Linked DNA regions of Homo sapiens. The protein of the gene in region 1 purifies or fractionates together with the protein of each later gene. This does not show direct contact. Each region holds a gene or a part of one and is shown in the gene's direction. Other genes may lie near its edges. The genes, in order: ACBD3, XPNPEP3, PDCD6, STK26, TMEM59, GOLGA3 and ARFGEF1.

The links.
Region 2: the proteins of ACBD3 (region 1) and XPNPEP3 purify together in Homo sapiens (pull-down; one large-scale study listed by IntAct). This does not show direct contact.
Region 3: the proteins of ACBD3 (region 1) and PDCD6 purify together in Homo sapiens (pull-down; one large-scale study listed by IntAct). This does not show direct contact.
Region 4: the proteins of ACBD3 (region 1) and STK26 fractionate together in Homo sapiens (co-fractionation; one large-scale study listed by BioGRID). This does not show direct contact.
Region 5: the proteins of ACBD3 (region 1) and TMEM59 purify together in Homo sapiens (co-immunoprecipitation; one large-scale study listed by IntAct). This does not show direct contact.
Region 6: the proteins of ACBD3 (region 1) and GOLGA3 purify together in Homo sapiens (pull-down; one study listed by IntAct). This does not show direct contact.
Region 7: the proteins of ACBD3 (region 1) and ARFGEF1 fractionate together in Homo sapiens (co-fractionation; one large-scale study listed by BioGRID). This does not show direct contact.

Annotation. Positions count from the first base shown.
Region 1 is NC_000001.11:226,159,242-226,162,741, reverse strand, and holds part of ACBD3 (Golgi resident protein GCP60), read left to right. Parts: intron 1-1,052; coding exon 1,053-1,211; intron 1,212-3,383; coding exon 3,384-3,500. UniProt on the Homo sapiens protein: Involved in the maintenance of Golgi structure by interacting with giantin, affecting protein transport between the endoplasmic reticulum and Golgi. Involved in hormone-induced steroid biosynthesis in testicular Leydig cells.
Region 2 is NC_000022.11:40,884,648-40,888,147, forward strand, and holds part of XPNPEP3 (xaa-Pro aminopeptidase 3), read left to right. Parts: intron 1-1,665; coding exon 1,666-1,868; intron 1,869-3,500. UniProt on the Homo sapiens protein: Catalyzes the removal of a penultimate prolyl residue from the N-termini of peptides, such as Leu-Pro-Ala. Also shows low activity towards peptides with Ala or Ser at the P1 position.
Region 3 is NC_000005.10:306,146-309,645, forward strand, and holds part of PDCD6 (programmed cell death protein 6), read left to right. Parts: intron 1-456; coding exon 457-615; intron 616-3,500. UniProt on the Homo sapiens protein: Calcium sensor that plays a key role in processes such as endoplasmic reticulum (ER)-Golgi vesicular transport, endosomal biogenesis or membrane repair.
Region 4 is NC_000023.11:132,026,302-132,029,801, forward strand, and holds part of STK26 (serine/threonine-protein kinase 26), read left to right. Parts: intron 1-3,500. UniProt on the Homo sapiens protein: Serine/threonine-protein kinase that acts as a mediator of cell growth. Modulates apoptosis. In association with STK24 negatively regulates Golgi reorientation in polarized cell migration upon RHO activation.
Region 5 is NC_000001.11:54,036,205-54,039,704, reverse strand, and holds part of TMEM59 (transmembrane protein 59 isoform 2 precursor), read left to right. Parts: intron 1-2,986; coding exon 2,987-3,095; intron 3,096-3,500.
Region 6 is NC_000012.12:132,804,870-132,808,369, reverse strand, and holds part of GOLGA3 (golgin subfamily A member 3), read left to right. Parts: coding exon 1-479; intron 480-1,081; coding exon 1,082-1,193; intron 1,194-3,347; coding exon 3,348-3,500. UniProt on the Homo sapiens protein: Golgi auto-antigen; probably involved in maintaining Golgi structure.
Region 7 is NC_000008.11:67,333,782-67,337,281, reverse strand, and holds part of ARFGEF1 (brefeldin A-inhibited guanine nucleotide-exchange protein 1), read left to right. Parts: intron 1-3,500. UniProt on the Homo sapiens protein: Promotes guanine-nucleotide exchange on ARF1 and ARF3. Promotes the activation of ARF1/ARF3 through replacement of GDP with GTP. Involved in vesicular trafficking.

The DNA of each region.
Region 1 (3,500 bases):
ACTTATAGGAGTTAGAGGGGAGAAAGGTGAGGTAGCCCAGACAATTCTCGTGGTAGGTTTATGAAATAGTGTCTTATCTGATACTCCTTAGAAATCTTCCCTTTCATCCTGTCTGCAGGCTCCCTGAACACCATACCACTCTCAGACCCGGAAGATGTCCATTCCTAGCACAATAGGATCTGTTCTTTTTGGAAGGGTCTTGTGGGGTGGGTGAAAGCTGGGCAAGGGCTGCCCTGAGAGGTTAACCGTTCTTTTTTAAATTAAAAGCTTTACAAAAAATTTTAATTTCAGAAATAATACACAAATATATGCAATATAAAATTTTCATTTATGGCAGTATATGAAACACAAACTGAAAAAAATCTTTTTTCCCACATTTCTTTTAATTCCACTCTCCTCTGCATAGATAATAACTGATAAATTTAGGGTATGTCCTTCCAGATCTTTTCCTTTGTATTCACCTTTTTTTTTTTCATTAAGCAAGTGTATTACATGTCTTTACATATTAGGCAATGTATTTCTATCCTTTGGCTCTGCGATATTTCAGGGTGGATTTTTTACTTCTGTACACGTTTGTCGAGTGCTTGTTCTTTCCAGCACTGTGCTAAGCCCTGAGGATGTCGTGGTGTGAGATAGGCAGTCTCTTCCCCTATGGAGCATCTAGTTTAATGGGTAATGCAGATCTATTGCTGAATGTATCACACAAATTTAATTATAATGACAGCAGGTATTATGAAGGAAAAGCTTTTAGTGCTGTGAGCATATATTAGAGGGGATCCTTCAGGGTATAGGAATATCATAATGACTTAAGTAGTTTCTTATGATGGACACATTTCTGTTGCTGTGCAACAATAATTATTCTTGATGTGATTTGTATATTGTGCGATTGATTCCCTATAAGTTTCTGCTAGTAAAGTGTATGTATTTTAAATTTTGATGTATATATCCACATTGTTCTCTAAAAAGGTCATGTCAGTTTTCCCTGGGAGCTAAAGTTTTATTTTTAAACAGGATTCAACGTATAGGGTTCATTCTCTATCTTTGCCTTGTAGGAAGGAGGAAGAGGAGCGAAGGCGGCGTGAAGAGGAAGAAAGAGAACGTCTGCAAAAGGAGGAAGAGAAACGTAGGAGAGAAGAAGAGGAAAGGCTTCGACGGGAGGAAGAGGAAAGGAGACGGATAGAAGAAGAAAGGCTTCGGTTGGAGCAGCAAAAGTAAGTTTATTATGTGGCTTATGTTTTAAAATGAGAAATGGAAAAAAAATAGAATAAAAATAAGAAATGAGCGGGCCAGGTGTGGTGGTTCACGCCTGTAATCCCAGCACTTTGGGAGGCGGAGGCGGGCAGATCACCTGAGGTTGGGAGATCACCTGAGGTTGGGAGATGGAGACTATCCTGGCTAACACAGTGAAACCCTGTTTCTATTAAAAATACAAAAAATTAGCTGGGCGCAGTGGCATATGCCTGTAATCCCACCTACTCAGGAGGCTGAGGCAGGAGAATCTCTTGAACCCAGGAGGTGGAGGTTGCAGTGAGCCGAGATCGCGCCATTGCACTCCAGCCTGGGTAATGAGTGAAACTCCGTCTCAAAAAAAAAAAGGAATGTATTAGAAGGTTTGGGGGTTCACTTGCAGAACCCAGAGATTGGAAGCAGGAGCTGAGGTTGCTTGGTTGCGCTCTCTGTTTCTTGTCTCTGCTTCTCTCAGCTTATGTCTCTGCTTCATCCTTGCTCTCTGCAAATTGTCAACTGTCTGCTTTGGCATATGCAAGGCTGTCCGAGGATTTATTTGGTCTATGTTTCCATGCATCTGACAGAGACTGGCTGGAATCTGTGAGACCCAGTTGCAGTTTCCCAGGACAGAGAATCTTGTTGGTCCAGTCTATGTCAGATATCCATTTATAGTCCTTAGTACAAGATTTGGAGGCTTCAACTATTGCTTACTCAGTAAGGGCTTTGAGACTCAGAGACTGACAGGTTCTTCAAGAGGGAGCTGTGGGTACAAGGAGGCAGTGATTAACACCCATAAAACACTGGGAAGTAAGTCTGAGTTTGTAGGGGTGGCATGGCTTGTAGGTTAAACCAGAGAACATGAGAGTCCATTGATTTCTTCTCATTATTTCTGGGTAGTTCCTCAGAAAAAGGTTTAGTGCTAGCCTCAAACTAATCCAGGCCCTCATTCAACTTTGGAGAAAGACTATGAATGCAGCTCTTTTTTGGGGGAGGTTGTCCTAGGTGGATCGAATGTTGTGCTGTATGTAGGAGTTTGTGAGGCTTTGCTTTGTTATCTATTAATAGATGGCTTTGAGGTCTCTGTTAAGTTGGTCACATAAGTAAGTTAAGAAGCATGTGGTTGCTGGCTGTGGTGGCTCATGCCTGTAATCCCAGCACTTTGGGAGGCCGAGGCGGGCGGATCACTTGATTGAGGTCAGGGGTTTGAAACGAGCCTGGCCAACATGGTGAAACCGTCTTTACTAAAAATATAAAGATTAGCCAGGCGTGGTAGCAGGTGCCTGTAATCCCAGCTACTTGGGAGGCTGAGGCAGGAGAATCGCTTGAACCTAGGAAGTGGAGGTTGCAGTGAGCTGAGATCACGCCACTGCACTCCAGCATGGGTGACAGAGTGAAACTCCGTCTCAAAAAAAAAAAAAAGAAGAAGCATGTGGTTTATCTATAAAAGAATATGAGTATCTCTAAACTAAGCATGCCAAGATATTTTCAGTATTTCCTCTATTAAGACAGGCTTTAAATTAAATGCTGTGGACCCTTAATTTTTCACTGGCTTTATTTATACTTACCAGGGCCACCTGTAACATCTTCCAGCTATTCTTCTGCCTCTTACTGTTTTTTATGTATTTAGGTACAGAAGCCATAGCCAACAGTTAAATACCTCATCTATGTCAGAGATGACAATCCATCATCTTAAAGCATCGTGGTAAATTAGTGTAGCTCTAGAGCCAAACTGCCTGGATTTGCATCAGGCTGTAGCATCTGCTAGCAGTATAGTCTTGGGCAAGTTACTGAACCCTCTGTCAGAGGGTTGTTGTGAGGACTAAATGGGTTAGTATGTGTGAGTACTTTCAACACTGCATGGCACATAGTAAGGGCACAATAAATGTTAATAATTATGATGGTGGTCATGATGATGATGATCATATGCTTATCTTCCATCCCGAATTTTCCTGGAAAATCCTAAGTAAAAAATTAGAGGCCAGGCTTATTTTCTTAAATCTTTCTTCTGGACCCAGAACACATACTAATTGGTGTACATTACTAGCTTAGTTGTTTTTAAGAGTTACAGACTGTAAAAGTAAGTAATAAGGACATTTTATTTTGTCATGAACAATCTCCTGTAGCCAGACTAGTATATATATTTTTAATGTTTTTAGGCAGCAGATAATGGCAGCTTTAAACTCCCAGACTGCCGTGCAGTTCCAGCAGTATGCAGCCCAACAGTATCCAGGGAACTACGAACAGCAGCAAATTCTCATCCGCCAGTTGCAGGA
Region 2 (3,500 bases), on another chromosome or scaffold:
TGAAAGGTTTAAAAACCTTTAAAAAAGTGAGCTATGATTTCATACACTTTGAACGTGTAGTAGAGATTGTTTTACTTTTTAAAAATTACAACAATTGGCCGGGTGCAGTGGCTCACGCCTGTAATCCCAGCACTTCGGGAGGCCAAGGGAGGTGGATTGCCTGAGATCAGGAGTTCGAGACCAGTCTGGACAACATGGTGAAACCCCGTCTCTACTAAAAATACGAAAAAATTAGCTGGACGTGGTGGCATGCGCCTGTAATCCCAGCTACTTGGGAGGTTGAGGCAGGGGAATTGCTTGAACCAGGGAGGTGGAGGTTGCAGTGAGCCGAGATCGCGCCACTGCACTCCAGCCTGGGTGACAGAGCAAGACTACGTCTCAAAAAAAAAAAAAATTACACGACAATTAAATTTCCATCTATCGTAAGTAGGAAGGTGTTTCCCATGTAGTATATATTTAGAACCATTTTTATTTTAAAAATGAAAATATGTAGGACATAGAATCACATAGGACATAGAATCATAGAATCAGTGCATATCCAATCAAAGTTTTCTGGATTTTTTCCCCTCTACTTTCCCCAAAGTACTTTTTAGTCATATAAAATATTCAGACCTTCTCACTTGGATTGTTAGGAATACTGTTTGTAGCCTACTGTTAGAAAAAAAGAACAAATGTAGATCTGATATTAAGTGCAAATCATTTTTATAATGAGCCTTTATATCGTATATCTTAGGCAAATACAGACCATTTCCTTAGGTCTCTAAAGTTGAAAGCTGAACTGTGATTGTTTACAAAGAGAATGTATAGCAGATGCAAAGGGAGAAGTGAGGAAATATCAACTGTAGTTTTTCCATAGCAATGAATAATTGCTCCAGAATGGGAGGAGAACCCTTTCCTCTAGTACTGAGATCATTATGTGAAAGGATGGGACACTTTACCCATAAAGTCATGATCTGAGTATGTTTTTCTGTCCTTCTGTGTGCAATTATTCAACAAGTGCCTCTAGCTCAGTAAGTGGTGGTGAAGAACAGTTGTTCTAATTGTTTAATAATGAAGGCCGGGCATGGTGATTCACGCCTGTAATCTCAGCACTTTGGGAGACTGAGGCGGGTGGATCACAAGTCAGGAGTTCGAGACCAGCCTGACCAATATGGTGAAACCTCATCTCTACTGAAAATACAAAAATTAGCTGGGCATGGTGGCGGGCACCTGTAGTCCCAGCTACTTGGGAGGCTGAGGCAGAAGAATCGTTTGAACCTGGGAGGCGGAGGTTGCAGTGAGCTGAGATTGTGCCACTGCACTCCAGCCTGGGCAACAGAGCAAGACTCCATCTCAAAAATAAAGAGAGAGAGAAAGAGAGAAAATCAAAGCTTGACTAAAGCTTTAGTCCCGTATCATCCTTTATAAAGAACACTGAAGTTTAGGGGCAGAAAAGCTGTATATTCAGTCTTAGAATATCTTGCCATTTCCAGGGAATGACCTTTCTAATGATTTATAATCAAACCTTTATTGCTTCAGTCCTGAGAGAGTCTTAAGTCTCAACACTTTAGAGTTCCACGTTACAGGTTTTATAGTTTTGACTCTTGTTCAAGTCGTTATGACAGTTGATATTTCTTGTTGCTGGTAGTTTTGTTTTAAATTTATTTTTCGGCTTCTCATTCTAAGCTGAGACGAACATGGTTTGGTATGACTGGATGAGGCCCTCACATGCACAGCTTCACTCTGACTATATGCAGCCCCTGACTGAGGCCAAAGCCAAGAGCAAGAACAAGGTTCGGGGTGTTCAGCAGCTGATACAGCGCCTCCGGCTGATCAAGTCTCCTGCAGAAATTGAACGAATGCAGATTGCTGGGAAGCTGACATCACAGGTATGATTCCTATTGAAAAGTTTTTTCCAGCCGGGCGCGGTGGCTCACGCCTGTAATCCAAGCACTTTGGGAGGCCGAGGCAGGTGGATCATGAGGTCAGGAGATCGAGACCATCCTGGCTAACATGGTGAAACCCCGTCTCTACTAAAAAAACATAAAAAATTAGCCGGGCATGGTGGCGGGCTCCTGTAGTCCCAGCTACTCGGTAGGCTGAGGCAGGAGAATGGTGTGAACCCGGGAGGCAGAGCTTGCAGTGAGCCGAGATCGGGCCACTGCACTCCAGCCTGGGCGACAGAGCGAGACTCCATCTCAAAAAAAAAAAAAAAAACAAGAAAAAAAGAAAAAGTTTTTTCCAGATTGGAAAAATCGTAAGCTCTTGAGGTCGTATACCCAATGCAGCAGTCTCCTCACCGCAGAATGGCATCTAGCTTCTGCTCCAGTGTGTAGTGAACATACCTAGAGACTTGCTTAATACCTTGCAAGACAAAGTAAATCTGCCTTCTGTTAAGATGGTTCTTTTACCCATCAATCTTAATTATTTCTCCTTAGAACGACAGAAATTAATACTGTTTCTTTTCCTTATAGTTACACTAATAGTGTCAGTTAAACAGTTTGGTTCTAAGAAAGACTCAGGACCCAAAGTGACAATGCTTACAGATCTGCAGTTTATTATAGGAAAAGGGTAAAAAATAACCATAATATGAAAGTAAGGATATATATCACAGCCAATGGCTGTCTCAAAGCAAGGAGTCTAGAGAAGCCAGGTGCAGGCTTCTCTGGTCCTCCCTAGGTGAGGGCCAGGCAGGATGTATCTTTCTCTTACAGATTAGGAATCACCAGTGTTGTCATACTCTGCTCAGGCTGCCATTACAAAATATCACAGTCTGCATGGCTTAAACAAGAGAAATGTATTGTCTCATAATTTTGCAGTCTGGAAGTCCGAGATCAAGGTGCCATCATGGTCCATTTCTGGTGAGGGCTCTCCCGGCTTACAGAAGGCGGCTTTCTTGCTGTGTCCTTACATGACAGTGAAAGAGGGCCTTTTTACAAGGCCATGGTCCTATCAAATTAGAGCCCCACCCTTAATTACCTAATTTAACCTTAACTACCTCCTAAAGACATAGAGATTAGAGCTTTAACACATTAATTCTGCGGGAAACACAATTCAGTCCATGGCACATGCAACAGACTACCTCAGAATCAGAGACTCCAAAATGGAATCTCAGCTAGGGATTTTTGTTTTTTTGGTCACATAATCATATTCCTGCTACGTAACAGTAAAGCCCCCCGAGAGTTTTCACAGAGACCAAGTGTAAACCATAAATCTCACTGGCAAACTGATAGAAACTATCCCAAAACTCCCTATTTCATTTATTCTCTCCAAGGTGTTGGCCATTGACTTAATTTAAAAAAATCTTTTTACTGTGGTGAAATGTGCATAACATAAAATATATCATTTTAACCGTTTTTAAGTATGCAAATCAATGACATTAAGTACATTCACATTGTTGTGCCCACTTTTTCCCGACTTTCTCCATCATTCCAAATAGAAACTGTACAGATAAATAATAACTTCCCATTCTCCCCTCCTCCAGCCCCCAGTAACCTCTACTTTCTCTGTGAATCTACCTA
Region 3 (3,500 bases), on another chromosome or scaffold:
ACCAGTGCTGTGGGCCCTGGAGAGTCAGAGGGTCAGCTCTGGGAATTAGATTCGCGTTCTAGGCCGAGACCCAGGAGCCAGGGGAGCTGGGGCCACTTACCTTCCCCGTGCCTCGGAAGCTGAGTGTGAAGCTCTGCTCTTCTTTCTGTCGTGGCTGCGGCTGGATTTCCTCACACATCCCATTGCACGGCCTGCCTCACAGCTGCAAGTGCACCTTCTCCTGGGACTTAGGGGGTCAGGGCTGGGGGACAATCCCCCACACCCCCACCCAGGGCGAAGGTGACAAGACTTTAAGGGATTTCACCCCATTCACAGACAGGCATGCATTGCCCAGTCCCTGGTTAGTGGTCAGCAGTGGGGCCCCGCCAGGCTCTGAGGGCTGAGGTCTGGTGGGAAGCCTCAAGTGAGTTTGCTGCAACTGATCTTTTGCTGCTTGACCGTTCCTCTCTGTCTCAGCCATGTTTGACCGTGAGAACAAGGCCGGCGTGAACTTCAGCGAGTTCACGGGTGTGTGGAAGTACATCACGGACTGGCAGAACGTCTTCCGCACGTACGACCGGGACAACTCCGGGATGATCGATAAGAACGAGCTGAAGCAGGCCCTCTCAGGTTTCGGTAACTCACTCACTCTGGCTTGTGTAGCGTGTTTCATTTTGGAACCTTGGAGCCGTTGAAGTTCTTTAAACCTTGTTGGACTTAACTGATTGTCTAACCAGGCTACGTAAAGTTTTTGTTGACGTCATGCAGGTTCATATTTGATATTGCTCATGTCGGAAGGCGATCCTCGACATGGATACGTTTATTCAGGTTTTTATCCAAAATGAGATAAGGGCTATGCAAGCCGTTCATCTTTTCTGAAGTGGAATGATGTCGTGAGCAAAACTGAGAATGTGGCTTTTGAAATCATTTAAAAGTGGATCCATGAAAATACCGTGGGGCAGGGCAGCTTATATTTCATGATAGATCAAAGCACGTTGAAAAGGCAACAGTCACCTAAGAAACAGCTGTCAGTCACCAGGTCCAAACCGTGCGCCTCAGAAGGGGCGTTAGGCAGAACGCGTGCCCATTCTCAGGTGTGCTCGGCGTGTGTGTGCTCGGCGTGTGTGTGCTCGGCGTGTGTGTGCACACGTGTGCCGTGCGCCTCAGAAGGGGCGTTAGGCAGAACGCGTGCCCATTCTCAGGTGTGCTCGGCGTGTGTGTGCTCGGCGTGTGTGTGCACACGTGTGCCGTGCGCCTCAGAAGGGGCGTTAGGCAGAACGCGTGCCCATTCTCAGGTGCGCTCAGCGTGTGTGTGCTTGACGCGTGTGCACACACACATGTGACGGTGTGCCGTGGGTCTAGGAGTGTTCACAGTGCCTGTCCAGAGTGCGTCCATAGGGCCTGTCCACGGGGCTTCCCGTGCTGCTCTCAGGGCTGAGAGGAAGCAGGGGTTTTATTTACAGAGGAACAACGGGCATGTTTGGGGCCAGCCTGAGGCTGTTGGTGGCTGCACCGAGATTCTAATCCATGCGGATCTCATCTGGCCCCTGTTGTGAAGCCGCTTCCGTGATTTGCTTAAAAGGCTCCTTAGAAACAGTGAGGAAAATTCGATTCTACTTGAGTACCTCCGAGATCCCTGGAGTCTCACTTATCTAAGCACGTCGCCTCTCCTCGTGTTTCCTCCCAGCATGCACTTTGTGGCTGCCTTTCTTTCTCTTTTCTTTCTCACCTTACGAGCTTGTCCACAGGGCCGGGGGTGGACACTGGGTCTCCTCAAGAAGCAGTTCTGAGCTGACCAGCTGCGAGCCAGGATTTGGGCTGGATGGCTCTGAATTGGTACTTGGAATGCAGCTGACCTTGCTGTGCCCTTGGGTGGGGGAACTGGAGGGAACGCTGGCCGGCTCCTCTTCCCTGGGGCAGGTACGGAAGGGCTGGGAGGGAAGGATGCCACCCTCCACAGAGAGTGGTCCTGGGGGCCAGGGAGGCCAGTGCTGCCGATTGCGGCCAGGGCCACGTGGACTTCAGGACCGGCCTGAAGTTATTTTTAGATAAGCGACCTCTGGCGCCACGGACATCTTTTCCTAACCTTGTCAGGCCCTGGAGCTCCCTTTGTCCATGCCAGTGACCATCGGTCCTCAGAATGTGCAGTGGAAGTTGCTGTGGACAGTGCTCCCTGGTCTCTGAGGCCCTCTTCGTCCTGGTCTGGCCAAGGACTTCCCAGAAAACTGTGCTTAGCTGTGGCGGGAGGCACGGCCGGTCACGCAGCCTTCCTCCCGCCCTGGAGTGGGCAGGCCTGCTTGTGTTGTGCAGCGGCAGAACCCTTCCTGACTTCCAGGTTTTTCCTGGGGTGCGGCATCCCATCGCAGCATTTTCTCTGGTTACCCTCACGAGTTTCCTCCTGCGTTTGGTTCTTGATCTCCAGGGCCATCTCCCACGTCTTCCTTGGAAAGGGGCATTGTCATCCTTTTTGTATTTTGATGATTTTGAAAGATTTCCCATAGTAACTGTTAGGAAGTTGGCCTCAGAAGCAAAAATTCTTCTTTTGTCTTGGCCCCTGTGAACAAGTGTTCTGCTCTCAGATGAAGCAGGGAGGCTGCACTGGAGCTTGGTGGCCAGCAGGAGGGAATCACCAGGGTGGTGAAGCCTGCGAGATTTCTCCCCGGGTGTCTCTGATGGGGCCACATGGTGGATTTCATAATCCACCGATTCGTTTTTTTAAGCCTTTATTGTTAACATCAACTGTGTGCCATGCTCAGAGACCTGAAGTGAAAAGGTGAGGAAGGCGTGCTCACATTCCAGCACTCACCACCCGGCACCGGGACAGCTGACTCAGCACGTGCCGTTTAGGTTGCTGTAAACAGCCGGTGAGATTCTCCCCTCTGGTGGGCAGTGCGTGTCTGACAAAGGCAGTCGGGCGGAGAACAGTTCCTCCGCTGTGGTCCTTTGCCACTGTACCAGGCCCCCAAGAGCTGGGGGGAGCCCCAGGGAGCCTCAGCCTGTTGAGTGGGGGCAGCTGGTTTGTCCTCCGAGGTGGAAGAGGTGATTTCTGAGGAGGTCATGCTCCGCTTGGCTCGTTCACAGCATTTCAGAGAGTCCGAAAGAGGAGAAAGACCTTGGCAAGGGGTGTGTCAGGGGTGGGCCCAGGGACGCTGGTGGCCTCATGTGGACTGACTTTCATGAACAGAAACTCAGAAACAGTTGCTTCTGGATTTTGGCTTCTCAGATAAACATTCTTTTTGTAGTTCGTTTGTTCATCCCTCATTTTGCTGTCTGACTTTGCCTTTCTTTTCCCTTCACTATTACTGATGACCAAGGAAACTGGAAGTTAATTCCAGAGGCAGTGGGGTTGCTCCTGTTGTCTGTGCAGACTGGAGTTCCTCTGCCTCTGTCAGCATCTCCTCTGTCCTTCCCCAGCCTTGGCAGGAGACCAGTAATGACCTCTGTCCCCGTGCACCCCAGTGATGGCCGCCGTCCCCGTGCACCCCAGTGATGGCCGCCGTCCCCGTGCACACCAGTGAGGG
Region 4 (3,500 bases), on another chromosome or scaffold:
TTCCTTATGAATTAGTTATTCAAACTCATATTGTTGATATTTCTTAATATTGTGGTAACGAACATTTTTTGCCACGTTACACCAAATGTTGAGGGTATGAAGTTTTTTGTACTTAATTTGTGCTTACTTCTTTAGTGTGTAACTAGAGGAATTTTCCATACCAGTAGCTGAACTCTTGAAAATATTTAAAGTACAACTTAAAAAAAAACCAATAAACCTGTTTCTTTCCACTCAAATATTTACTCTTTAATGATTCAAACCCTGTTTTCTTTGAAGTTTTCAGTTATAAATCATACTTAAGTTTAAGATATTTCCCCTTAGAGCCTACAATAGTATTTTTGAGGACAAGTTTCATTTAGAATATTGTTGATTGTTAAATCTTTCGTAAGATGTAGGTGGAAGAATAAAGTTAAATGTTGAGTTAGAGTACTAAATGTTATGCTTTATGCTGTGCCTCTTGTTAAAGAACTTTTAAAGCTTCTGCTAAAGAACTTTAAAATTAGCCTTCATGTATCTTTAAATATGACCAAGGTGGTACAGTTTAAATCTAGTTGTCATTTGAGATGAGAAGTAGAAATGAAGTTTAACGATTAATGATCACTTTATTGAAGACTTTTATCTAAGTGGTGGGAAACACTGCCCGACATTGGTGAACATAATCACTGGGTTCTGGGAAGCATACTGACGTATATTACATGTTCCACCCTTAAAGATCTTAAAATCTTGTTGAGTTGTTAAAACTAGCACATGAAATATCAAATAATGCAAAATCTGTGAACTCACTGTAAGTATAATAGAAGTTTCTCACTGGAAGTGTTGAAGGCTTCCAGAAAGTAAGCTGACCCTAAAGTCTTGTTAGGATGCACACTGGGCAGGGCATTTCCAAGCAAGGAAAAATCCCCAGCAGAGGTAGACAGACTAGGATTTTTTGACTTTACAATGGTACTCACACAACCATTCTGTTTTTCGCTTTCCATACAGTATTCAGTAAATAACATGAGCTAGTCAACACTTTGTTATAAATAGGCTTTGCATTAGATGATTTTGCTTAACTGTAGGCTACTGTAAATGTTGTGAACACGTTTAAGGTAGGCTAAGCTATGATGTTCGGTAGGTTAGGTGTACTGTATTAAATGCCTTTTCAAGTTACAATATTTTCAACTTATGATAGGTTTATTGGGACGTAACCACATTTTAAGTCAAGGAGCATATGTATACAATATAGATAAGGAAAGGTGCACTGCATTTGTGAGTGCATGCACACACACACACAATCTTTGAGAACAGGATAAAGTCATTTGGGCTGTCATAGAGAATTCCTCTAGAAAAATGATACATGATAAGGTCGGAAAACTGGATTGAGTACAGATCATGATTGTCCTTAAATGCCAGGGAAGGATTTTGGCCTTTGAACTAGCCATTAAACATTTCTGAGTAAGGGAGACTCAATGTACCAAGTTATATATCGAAAGAGAAATCTCAAAATTGGATGAATGAATCAACTGGAGGATTGAGAGGGGAAGGCAGTTTGATCTACAGAGGCTATTTCTTCTTTTTTAATTTTTTTTTTTTGAGACACGGTCTCACTCTGTCACCCAGACTGTAGTGCAGTGGCGCGATCACAGCTGACTGCAGCCGCCACTTCCTGGGTTCAAGCAATCCACCCATCTCAGCCTCCAGAGCAGCTAGAACTACAGGTGCACGCCACCATGCCTGGCTAATTTTTATGGTTTTTTTTTTTTTTTTTTGGAGACAATGTTTAGTGGTTGTCCAGGCTGGTTTCCAACTCCTGGACTCAAGCAATCCATCCACATTGGCCTTCCAAAGTGCTAGGATTACAGGCGTGAGCTACTGCGCCTGGCTACAGAGGCTATTTCAATGGGTCAATCATAGTTATACAGATGCAATGGGCCTTCCATGGACAGGTTCCATGGACATATGTTTAGTACTATGAAGAAAAAATTAATTACCAGGCTTAATAATTAGCTAGTTTCAGAAGGAAAAGTTAAAGACTGTGGTGTTTAATAGGAGGGAACTGGGAGACTTATGATACATCTGAAAGAAATTGGAATGTAGTGGGGAAGAGCCAGATCTGGTAGGAAGTTAAGGATTTCTGTTCTAGACTTGTGAATTTTGTGGTAACAATGGGATGACAAAGTACATATGTCCAATAAGTAGTTGAAAATGTAGAACTGAAGCTTTGGTCATTCATCAGATATTTACTGAGCATCTACTCTATGCCGGGCACTTCACTTGAAAATGAAGGACTAGAGACATCAAGGAGGGAGAGGTTCATAATGCCAGAAAGAATATGTGGAAGTGAGGGCCCTCATGAGACAGGAAAAGTAAGGTTGTAAGAAAAGTAAGGGTTGTAAGAAAAGTAAGGGTGTAAGAAAAGTAAGGGTGGCTTTAAGATGTATGAAAGGATGAGAACGTGTGTCAAGTTAGAGAGAGAGTTAACTGGGGTGGGGGATGGGGGGATTCTTTACTTAACAGTCATCCGGAAACCTACATTGGAGAAAGAATTCAGGTTGGTACCAGAGTCCAGTATGTGGAGTTCTTACCTCCCTTACACCTCCCTAAGGGGATAATCAGATTTGCAATTTGAGGTTGAAAGCATTGCTTTGCATTGGTGAACCCGAATTATTGTCCTTGTTATTGAGTAGTTAATGCAGAGGTGTTGAATATGCTAATGATAATGGCAGAAGACCAGCTGGAACAAAATAATCAAAGACTGTTAGCTGAGAGAAGGCGGGGTTAGTTAGAACTTTTGACACTAGGGGAGTAGGGACTGTAGGGAGAATAAACAGGAATTGGGTATGATAGGACATGTGCCTTCAACAGTAATCAGAGTTTAGAAATGGCACTTGAGTACAAAGGTCCGTCATCATGTACTTCTCTTGCTTGAGTCACAGCAAATGAGAGAATATAATTTAGCTGGTACTTAGGAACAATTGAACATTGTGATATTGTATTTTTTATTCTGCTTTTCATATTCAGTGACCTTGAGCAAATCATCTACAAAATGGGGAATAATAAAAGCTGCATTTCCTTTGCCTCAATGAGAGGTTATTAGGATGAATTAACCATCATCTGTGGAGTTGGAGCTCCTTTGTAAAAGGTGTTATGATGTATGGGGGGCAGTTCATCCTGCAAAACAATGCTTGGCTAATCACATGAAAACACTGCCATTATCTCATCTCTCTCCTGCTTGATAACCCACATTTTTCTTTTGAAACCCAATCACCACCCCACACCACCCCAATGAGACACAAAGCCCTCTGCTCAGCTTTCCATACTTTCTGTTATATGGCTCCTCTCTGTAGATCTATACTTAGTTCCCACTACATCCCAACAAGAAATCCCTTTAATTCTACCATGCCAGTCACAGTTCAATAACCAGTGATTGGCCAAATTCTACCTGATTTTCAAGGTCCTCCATCTTAGCTTCTTCATGAACTCTCTCTGAATGTCCCAGGCTATAGAAATCTCTTCTATTT
Region 5 (3,500 bases), about 170 Mb from region 1:
TGTTCATTCTAGTGGACTGTTCTATCTCAAGTATAAAACTGCAGTAGTCCAAATCACATGCTCCCTGTAATTTCTTATAGAAACAGTTTCTTGAGAGGTTTTATCATATATCATTACAATTATGTGGACCTTACAAATTAATACTTTTTACTAAGCAAAATGTTTAAAGACTATGTGAGAAAACAAGGATTAAACTTTAAATTTTATCCTTCGTTCATTTCTAAACCTGGTTTTGAGCTTGTCCAAAAAAGGGCAGTTTTTCTTTCCAGTATTTAGGATGTATGTTGCAGTTTGATAGTTCTGTGAAACCTAAATAATTATTTAATCTTAAGTTACAGTTCTCAGTACTGTACTACCTGGCATATTATTGGTGATTTATTGACCTTTAACATTTTGTCATTATATGTTATGTTGTTTTTTTACATCTAACACTTTAAAAGTAATTTTGTGAAGCAACTAACTTTATAATGTATTTATAGAAATGTATTTCTTAGAAGTTTCTGTGCCCAAACATAAATTATAATAGGATCCTACATTTGAATAAAAATTATTCTTTTGGCCGAGTGCGGTGGCTCATGCATGTAATCCCAGCACTTTGGAAGGCCAAGGTGGGAGGATCACTTGAGCCCAGAAGTTCAAGATCAGCTTGGGTAACATAGTGAGACCCCATCCATCTCTACAAAAAATAAAAAAATTAGCTGGACATGGTGGCACACACCTGTAGTCCCAGTTGTCAAGAGGCTGAGGTGGGAGAATCACTTGAACCCAGGAGGTTGAGACTGCAGTGAGCTGTGATCGTGCCATTGCACTGCCTGAGTGACAAAGCGAGACTGTCTCAAATTTTATTATTTTTTTAAGTGTTCTTTTTTTAAATGCTTTTTCCCCTTCAGTGATCCCATTTGACTTTTAGAACAATACCCTGTGATAAGTAGGTGGTGATTTAGAGAGGTGAATTGACTACTCGCAAGGTTATACAGTCACTATGTTAGCATTCAAACCTAATTTTTCTAACTGTACATCTTCTGCTCATCCTATTCTGCTGTAACTATTTACTTCCTAAAGTGTCATGATTTTTCCATGATTACATACAGAATCACTCAGCCAGTTATTGGAATCTGGTCGTAGCTGTTAAAGAGACACCCTTGTCTCCAGAATGGAAATTGAGGTCACTCTTTCTTCACTTGCATTTCTTTTTGAGGAGCCAGGCACTGTGCTAGGGAGTTGAGACCTAGTAAAGATGTCAGGAGTTCTCAGATCTAAACAGACATGGACAATAATGATTGCTATACACACACACAGTCCTACACATGTCTCATACACAGCATATAAGGACTGTATTTAAGTCTACTGGAGGTTTCAAGGGGAGGATTGACAGGTGAGATAGAAATATCTCAAGTGATGAGTAGAAATTTTTGCTAGTTATAGCAGAAGATTTACTTAAAATTTTTTTTTCAGATATACTGGCCTCCTGCTCAATGTGTATAGGGTACATTACTATATATGGAGGATAAGGAGAGTCAGAAATTTGACTGAACTGGGAAAACAGGAATAGAGAGAATCAGGAACATAAGTGTCAAGAAGAGGCTTCTATGTGAAGGATAGATTAGAGGACCAGGTTGGAGAACTTTGGTAAATCAGGGAAGAAATTATGAGGTCTGGATTAGGGCAGTAGATAAGAACAGGAGATAATGGAGATAGTTGAAAATCTGTAGGATCTAGTCATTGTTTTGTTGTGGAGATTGAAGGGATGAGCCCCAGTTTTCTGGCTTAGGTAGTTGCTACTGGAATCTAGATATCAAATATATCCTCATTTTGTGGTAAATTCCTTAGTACTCAGGTTACTTAGGGCTGGAACATGGAGAGGAAAGTGGGTATTTGTTCATTAAAAACATATTTTACTCTATTATCTTTCTAAATTGGATACTTAAAGAATCATATGGGAGTTCCCTGCTTTTAGATACAATACATTCTCCAAAGTCCACCTCTTTTGCTGGCAGACAAACAATGACTGTGCTTACTGCATGTTCAAGTCTTGGCAAACTATCAAGTGAGTGATTAGGGTGGTAAGTATAGATCTCTTACTAGGCAGTGTTGGATGAGCAGAGATGTGAAAATTAGGGAGTATCTGTATTACACAGTTTGTCAGAGTTAGACTTTTAATTATTTAAAAATGGCTTGACTTTTTCCTATTCTTTGAATCTTAATAGGTCAATTATGAAAAAAACTCCAGGTGGGAGAATGGCTTGCGCCCATGAGTTCAAGGCCAGCCTGGGCAATATAGTGAGAGCTTGTCTCTATAAAAATTCAAAATAAATAAAAATAAATAAAAAATCTCTAATTGCTGATTCTCATAACTGGCCTTCTGTCTTAAGATATTTTAATTATAAGGAAAATATAACTATCTCTTTACTGAGATATGCTGTAATGGTTACAGAATGCCTTATAATAGCTGTGCTTTTTTAAATTGAAGTATAAGTAAATTATGGCAAATTGAATATGTAAAGTATTCTAGGGAAACTGACTTCTGGAAGCCTGGTGTGAATTCTTTTATAAAACAAATGATCATTTTAAATTTACCTATTCTATACCTTAACTTTTTGGTATATTGGTTTTCTTAAAGCAAGTATCGTAATAACTTGCAAAATAATATATGACATTTGTACAACAGTGTACAATTTACAGGACACTTTCACTTGCCTTATATATTTAGCAGAAAGTCAAGTATATCTGATTTTATTATTATTACAAAAGTGATATAGCCATGTTACAGAAACATTAGAAGTGGAGGAAAAAGACTTTATGCCAACCTAATGTAATAGCTATTAGTATAATATTTCCTTCTGTAAGTATGTTTTTTAATAGTTTCAAAGATAACCAACAAAGTTTTAATTGTACTGTTGAGCTAAGTACATAAGGTTGACTAATTAAGAATTTCCTGTTTCTTATAAAATTTTAATATAACTAATTGTTGATTTTTTTTTTCCAGTAACTCTGGGTGGATTTTAACTACAACTCTTGTCCTCTCGGTGATGGTATTGCTTTGGATTTGTTGTGCAACTGTTGCTACAGCTGTGGAGCAGTATGTTCCCTCTGAGGTAAATTTAATTCTTACCATTTGAAGACTGAGCCCTGTGATATATCATTTTAAACACCTTATTTGTTTAGCTGGAAAAACAAGGCCTTTCTACTAATAGAAAGAGAGAAGATGTGGTGGTTTTAATGTGGTAGAGGTTGGCACACATAAAAATTACAGGTTTGCAGCACAAGAATTGTTGTTCTCAGCTTTCTGTGATGCTAACTACCGTGGTGACATATATGTTGACTGGCTTGAGAACGGTGTCTCTTTCTGACTCTCTAAGACTGAAAAGACCTGTTGACATCAGTTTCTAGGGGATATATGGGAAAGAAGACTTTTTTTTTTTTTGAGGCAGAGTCTCATCTGTCACCCAGGCTAGAGTGCAGTGGCCAGGATCTTGGCTCACTGCAACCTCTGCTTCCTA
Region 6 (3,500 bases), on another chromosome or scaffold:
GAGAAAAAAACTTCCAAATCAAGCAAAATCCGGTCTCTGGCCGATTACAGAACTGAAGATTCAAATGCGGGGAATTCTGGGGGAAATGTCCCGGCTCCCGATTCTACCAAGGGTTCCCTGAAGCAGAACAGAAGCAGTGCGGCGTCCGTTGTGTCTGAGATCAGCCTGTCCCCCGACACTGACGACCGTCTGGAGAACACCTCCCTGGCTGGAGACAGCGTGTCTGAGGTGGATGGAAATGACAGCGACAGCTCATCGTACAGCAGCGCCTCCACCCGAGGGACCTATGGCATTCTGTCGAAGACAGTGGGCACGCAGGACACCCCCTATATGGTCAACGGCCAGGAGATTCCTGCGGATACCCTGGGCCAGTTCCCCTCCATTAAGGACGTCCTCCAGGCCGCAGCCGCTGAGCACCAAGACCAGGGGCAGGAGGTCAACGGGGAGGTGCGGAGTCGGAGAGACAGCATCTGCAGCAGGTGGTGGGGACAGCAGAGGTGGGCGGGGTGGGTGGAGGTGGGTGGGGCCAACAGAGGGGGGTGTGGGGCGGGCAGAGGTGGGTGGGGCGGTAGCAGAGGTGGGTGGGGCCAACAGAGGGGGCGGGGTGGGCAGAGACGGGCAGGGCAGGCAGAGGGCCTGGCCTGAGATGTTGCTTCCCGGGCCCACGGCTCTCCGCACTGGAACAGGTGATACACAGCTTTTCTTCCTGATTCTATCCTTAGTCTTGACATGAACATTTAATTCATAACAAGTCTGCTGCTTTTTAATCAGTAGAATTAGATCAGCAATGGTCTGTGTTACTAAAATATCCAGTCTCCCGTTTACATAGACTTGTCACTAAGCTGCACGACGCTTGCATGTCTCATGTTTCTGTAACAGTTCCCACTGCGTGAGGTGCCAACTGTTGGCAGGAATGTTCATCCGTGCATCATGCAAGCCTCAGCTCTCTACTTAAATCTCTTACTTAATTTTAAAAAATTGGGAGAGAGCAGCAGGGGTGTGTGGAATTTGGAGAATGTGGAGGAGTGTGAAAGAAAATGAGGATGGCTCGCACAGGCCTGACCCGTGCCTTTGTCCCCAGCGTGTCCTTGGAGAGCTCTGCAGCAGAAACACAGGAGGAGATGCTGCAGGTGCTCAAAGAGAAAATGCGACTCGAAGGACAGCTGGAAGCCTTGTCACTGGAGGCGAGTCAGGTAACGGACGTTCGACTGACATCTCAGCGTGCGGCGAAGTCGGAAAGCATGTGTGGCTCCTCTGTTGGGTACGAGGTTTCACAGATGTGGTTGGGAATCAGCCGCCGCAGCATGTGTGGCAGCCGAGGGTTCTGCATCTTTACGTTTTTTGTCTACTTGTCAGCCTTAGAAAGAGTTGTGAGTTTTCTGCCTCATCGTGCATGGGCGTGTTTCTCCCTGCGTCTCTACCAGAATATTTGCTAGATGTTAGGTGTCTCACAGTCCATAAGAGTCAAATTCTCTTGGTGGGTTGCAGCTTTTTCTGGCATGGTGAACCTTTTTTCTTTGTAGTGATTTCTGCTTTTTCTGATACTAATTGTGCTGTATCAGAGAAAGCTGCACACGCTGGCTTGGTTAGCATGTGCCAGAAACATCATTTTCCATCCCTTATTTCAGCTCTCCTTTGTCATTTTGTCGTATGCACTTTATCCACAGTGAAGAGCTAGGTATTTATCTTCTGTCGGCAGTTGAGTAAATCTGTTCAGTGGGGTTCAGCTGTCCGCTTCTGGCGTGGGAGGGTGAGAATGCACCCAGGCCCTGAGGTGACACAGCTGAGGGAGCCTCCTGTGGCCTGCGAGGCCGCAGAGCAGGGCTGGAGCTGCTCACAGTGTCCGGAGCTTGCCTTGCTAAATGCACGCCTCATGTCGAAGATGGTTTTCTCATACAACATGGTCCTTGGACACAAACCAACCAGTTTGTGACACCTAAAGCTGTGTCTACAGAAGAGGTGATTTCGGCTGTTTTGAGGCTAATTCTGGTTGTACGGTCGTCACTTCTCCAGTGTTACAGCGTGAGCCTCCCTCCGTCGGATGCATTTCCCCTCCTCTGTGTAGCCACTCTCTCGAACGGTGGCTTGCTGTCACTGCACTTTGTCTTCTTATCCTCTTAGGATCACTGATTGGTCCTTCGGTTGCATCCACACCAAGATCGTGAGGGTTGTTTCAGGTGTGGTGGTTGCTGGCCCCTTGCTCTAGGGTCTCCTGGAGTTTGTGGAGTTCCTCAATTGCTTTGGGTGTTTGTTGTCTTGGTGATGTGTGAACTGGATCCCTGCCCCTGTAGGCCTCAGCGTGGGGGCAGGTGGTGGGGCGATTTCCTCTGGCGATTCTCTGCTGCTCCTGGGACCACACAGCACTGCGGTGGCCACTCAGGACTGTGCTGTGTCCCGTGGCTCTGGCTGGAGCCGCACTTAGGCAGCCGCCTTTCCCTGCCTGTGTTTTTTGCCCATTTCCCCCCAGATCTGAATCCGCTTTTAATCTCTCAGGGGTCCCTCTACACGTCTGGCATTCTGTGTGTGTGCGCATACATGTGCACCCGTGTACACGTTTGGTGTTTTGAACACGTTTCCAGTGTCCTCGCAGGAGACGGGTGCTTCCCCAGCCCTGCCCTAGCGCTGCCCTGTGCAGGTGCAGTTGGGCCCAAAACCAGTGCAGGCTCCCTGTGCGTCCTGGGCCTGTTTGGAAAGTCGCCTTTTTCTGTGACGGCTGTGCTGGGAGAGCGCCTGGGGGTCTCGGGGTCCTCTGTCAGGCCTTGGGAGAGCGCCTGGGGGTCTCGGGGTCCCCTGTCAGGCCTTGGGAGAGCGCCTGGGGGTCTCGGGGTCCCCTGTCAGGCCTTGGGAGAGCGCCTGGGGGTCTCGGGGTCCCCTGTCAGGCCTTGGGAGAGCGCCTGGGGGTCTCGGGGTCCCCTGTCAGGCCTTGGGAGAGCGCCTGGGGGTCTCGGGGTCCCCTGTCAGGCCTTGGGAGAGCGCCTGGGGGTCTCGGGGTCCCCTGTCAGGCCTTGGGAGAGCGCCTGGGGGTCTCGGGGTCCCCTGTCAGGCCTTGGGAGAGCGCCTGGGGGTCTCGGGGCAGGGTCCTCTGTCAGGCCTTGGGAGAGCGCCTGGGGGTCTTGGGGTCCCCTGTCAGGCCTTGGGAGAGCGCCTGGGGGTCTTGGGGTCCCCTGTCAGGCCTTGGGAGAGCGCCTGGGGGTCTTGGGGTCCTCTGTCAGGCCTTGGGAGAGCGCCTGGGGGTCTCGGGGTCCCCTGTCAGGCCCTGACTGACTCGCTGGTTGTGTTCCTGTTAATACACTGGATGGAAGTGACTCGTTTTCTTAAAATCATTGTGGTTGTTGGGATCTTTTCAGGCACTTAAAGAGAAGGCTGAGCTGCAGGCCCAGCTGGCCGCCCTCAGCACGAAGCTGCAGGCGCAGGTGGAGTGCAGCCACAGCAGCCAGCAGCGGCAGGATTCGCTGAGCTCGGAGGTGGACACCCTGAAGCAGTCGTGCTGGGACCTGGAG
Region 7 (3,500 bases), on another chromosome or scaffold:
AGACAGTAAAACATTTTCATCCTGCCTTTTATATGTATTTTAGAATGTTTTAATGATAGAATTTTCAGATGATATAATAGGATATTTTCTACTGAGAATAACACAAAATAATTTCAATTTGTTTTGTCTGTTTTTTTTTTTTTTTTTTTTTTTGAGACGGCGTCACGCTCTGTCACACAGGCTGGAGTGCAGTGGCGCGATCCTGGCTCACTGCAAGCTCCGCCTCCCGAGTTCACGCCATTCTCCTGCCTCAGCCTCTCGAGTAGCTAATCTCGTGTAGCGCTACCGCGCCCGGCTGATTTTTTTTGTATTTTTATTAGAGATGGGGTTTCACCGTGTTAGCCAGGATGGTCTCGATCTCCTGACCTTGTGATCCTCCTGCCTTGGCCTCCCAAGGTGCTGGGATTACAGGCGTGAGCCACCGCGCCCGGCCTGCCTTGTCAGGTTTTTTGCAGGGAGGTTTTTTTATCAAAGAAATGAGCCTTTCACTTGTCTGGTTCTTTTCCTGGAATAGGAACTTTGTGGATGTAGTGAAAGATCTCAAGGTGAAGTTGAGATCCTCAACTTAGAGCCTTTAGGTGGGCCCTAAATCCAGTGAATGGTGTCCTTTTAAGGAAGAGGAAGGGACACAGTCACATACAAAGGAAAAAGTCCATGTGAAAATGGAGACGAGATCAGTTACTGCTGCCACATGCTATGGAATGCCAGAAGCCACCAGAAGTAGGAAGAGGCAAGGAGGGATTCTTCCCTTTGGATGTAGCATAGCTCTGCTGTGACCTTGATTTTAGATTTTGGGCCACCAGAACTATGAGAGGAAATTTCTGTTGTTTTAAGCCACCAAATTTATGGTAATTTATTAAGGCAGCCTTAGGAAATGAATGCAAGTTCCCTTTTATCCTAACTTTTCAGACCCATTTTGATTTCTTTATTCAAGTTTCCACTTACAGAGTCTACTGTACATATGTTTACACAATCAGATCCTGTCTTTGGCTCATCTCTGATTGTTTCATGAATCTAGAAAGCAGTTATTCTGAGGCTTTAGTGTGTTATAAGTAGAGGCTCTTGAAAAGCTTCTTAAAAGGTCTGGGCTCAAGTATTTAAGAATATTTAAAAAGTTTTGTGTTCTGCTTTTGATATTTTGTTTTGCTTAGACTTAGACTTGATGTAACTAAATTTGTTTATATAACCTATGTTATCTTTTCATTCAGAAAAGTCTTTGAAAATCTTTAAAATGGCCGGGCGCGGTGGCTCACGCCTGTAATCCCAGCACTTCGGGAGGCCGAGGCAGGTGGATCATGAGGTCAGGCGTTCGAGACCAGCCTGGCCAGCATAGTGAAACTCCGTCTCTACTAAAAATACAAAAAGTTAGCCGGGCGTGGTGGCAGTGGGCGCCTGTAATCCCAGCTATTTAGGAGGCTGAGGCAGGAGAATCGCTTGAACCTGGAAGGCGGAGGTTGCAGTGAGCCAAGATTGTGCTACTGCACTCCAGCCCGAGAGACAGTGCGAGAGTCCGTCTCAAAAAAAAAAAAAGAAAATCTTTAAAATATTTCATATTACCACTGGCGTGTCTTTAGGAAACGCCATGTGAGGCTATTAATTTTTCTTAACAAAAATGTGTACATTGAGACTTCATTTAATCAGCTGTTTAACAATCCTCATCTGTCAGAACTTTGCTAAGAAATAATAAAAATATAAGCAGTCAAAGTACATATTTTGAAGGCCAAGCACTTTATATAGAAGAGAATCTCTATGGCTTTTACTCAGTCTGTATGCTTTTATAATTCCAGTAAGTTTGGTAATTTGATATTTTTTATAAACGAATCCTTCAAATCATTTTCAAAAGTGTAACTACAACAATAAAATTTACTGTGATACGGGGCCCGGCGTGGTGGCTGGCGCCTGTGATCCCAGCACTTTGGGAGGCTGAGGCGGGCAGATCATGAGGTGAGGAGATCGAGACCATCCTGGCTAACACAGTGAAACCCCGTCTCTACTAAAAATACAAAAAATTAGCCAGTCGTAGTGGCGGGCGCCTGTAGTCCTAGCTACTTGGGAGGCTGAGGCAGGAGAATGGTGTGAGCCCGGGAGGCGGAGCTTGCAGTGAGCCGAGATTGCGCCACTGCACTCCAGCCTGGGTGACAGAGTGAGACTCTGTCTCAAAAAAAAAAAAAAAAAAAAAATTTACCGTGATACTCTTAGCTGAAGATAAATAACTACTGTTAACTTTTTGAAAAACAACTTTCTGATAAATGATTTACATACTATAGTATTTACTTTTTTTGAGTGTAATGATTTTTGGTAAATTTACTGAATTATGCAGCCATCAGCATAAATCCAGTTTTAGAACATTTCTATTACCTCAATAAAATCTGTAGTGCCCTTGTTGTCATCCCTAGCTTCTGGCATTCACTAATCTATTTTCTGTCTTTAGAGTTGCCTTTTCTGGACATTTCATGAAATGCAGTTATACACAGGTGGTCGTTAGTGTCTGGTTTCTTTCAGTATGTTTTTGAGGTTCATTCATGAAGTTTGTATCCACACTTCATTTCCTTTTATTGATGAATAGCATTCCATTGTTTAGATATCCTATATTTTGTTTATCCATTTACCAGTTGATGGATATTTGGGTTGAATGAATAATACTGCCATGAATATTTGTGTATAAGTCTTTGTGTGGACGTAAACTGTTATTTGTCCTAGGTAGACAAACTGGGAAGGGAATTGGTGGGCCACTTGATAAATTTATGTTTAACTTTTTAAGAAACTGCTAAATTCTTTTCCAGCCTACATACCCACCAGCAGTGTATGAGGCTTCCCGTTTCTTCAAATTCTCACCAATATTTGTTACTGCCTTTTTATTTTTAGCCATCCTAGTTGTTATGATGAAGTGTTACTTCATTGAAACACTGTTAACTTTTTGAAGTACAGATTAAATATCCTTTATCAGAAATGCTTGGGATCAGAAATGTTTTCAATTTTGTTTTTTTTTTTTTTTTTGGACTTTGGAATATTTGCATATACATAATGAAATATCTTGGGGATGAGATTGAAGTCTAAACACAAAATTTACTAATGTTTCACATCCACCTTATACACAATCCAAAGGTAATTTTATGCACTATTCTTTTTTTTTTTTTTTTTTTTTGAGACGGAGTTTAGCTATTGTTGCTCAGGCTGGAGTGCAGTGGTGCGATCTCAGCTCACTGTAACTTCCGCTTCCCAGGTTCAAGTGATTCTCCTGTCTCAGCCTCCCAAGTAGCTGGGATTACAGGCATGCGCCACCATGCTCAGCTAATTTTGTATTTTTAGTAGAGATGGGGTTTTGCCATGTTGGCCAGGCTGGTTTCAAACTCTGACCTCAGGTGATCCGCTGACCTTGGCCTCCCAAAGTGCTGGGATTACAGGCATGAGCCACTGCACCTGGTCTTATGCACTGTTGTTAATTTTGTGCATGAAACAAAATTTTGACTGTGTTTTGACTGTGACCCATCACGTGAGAT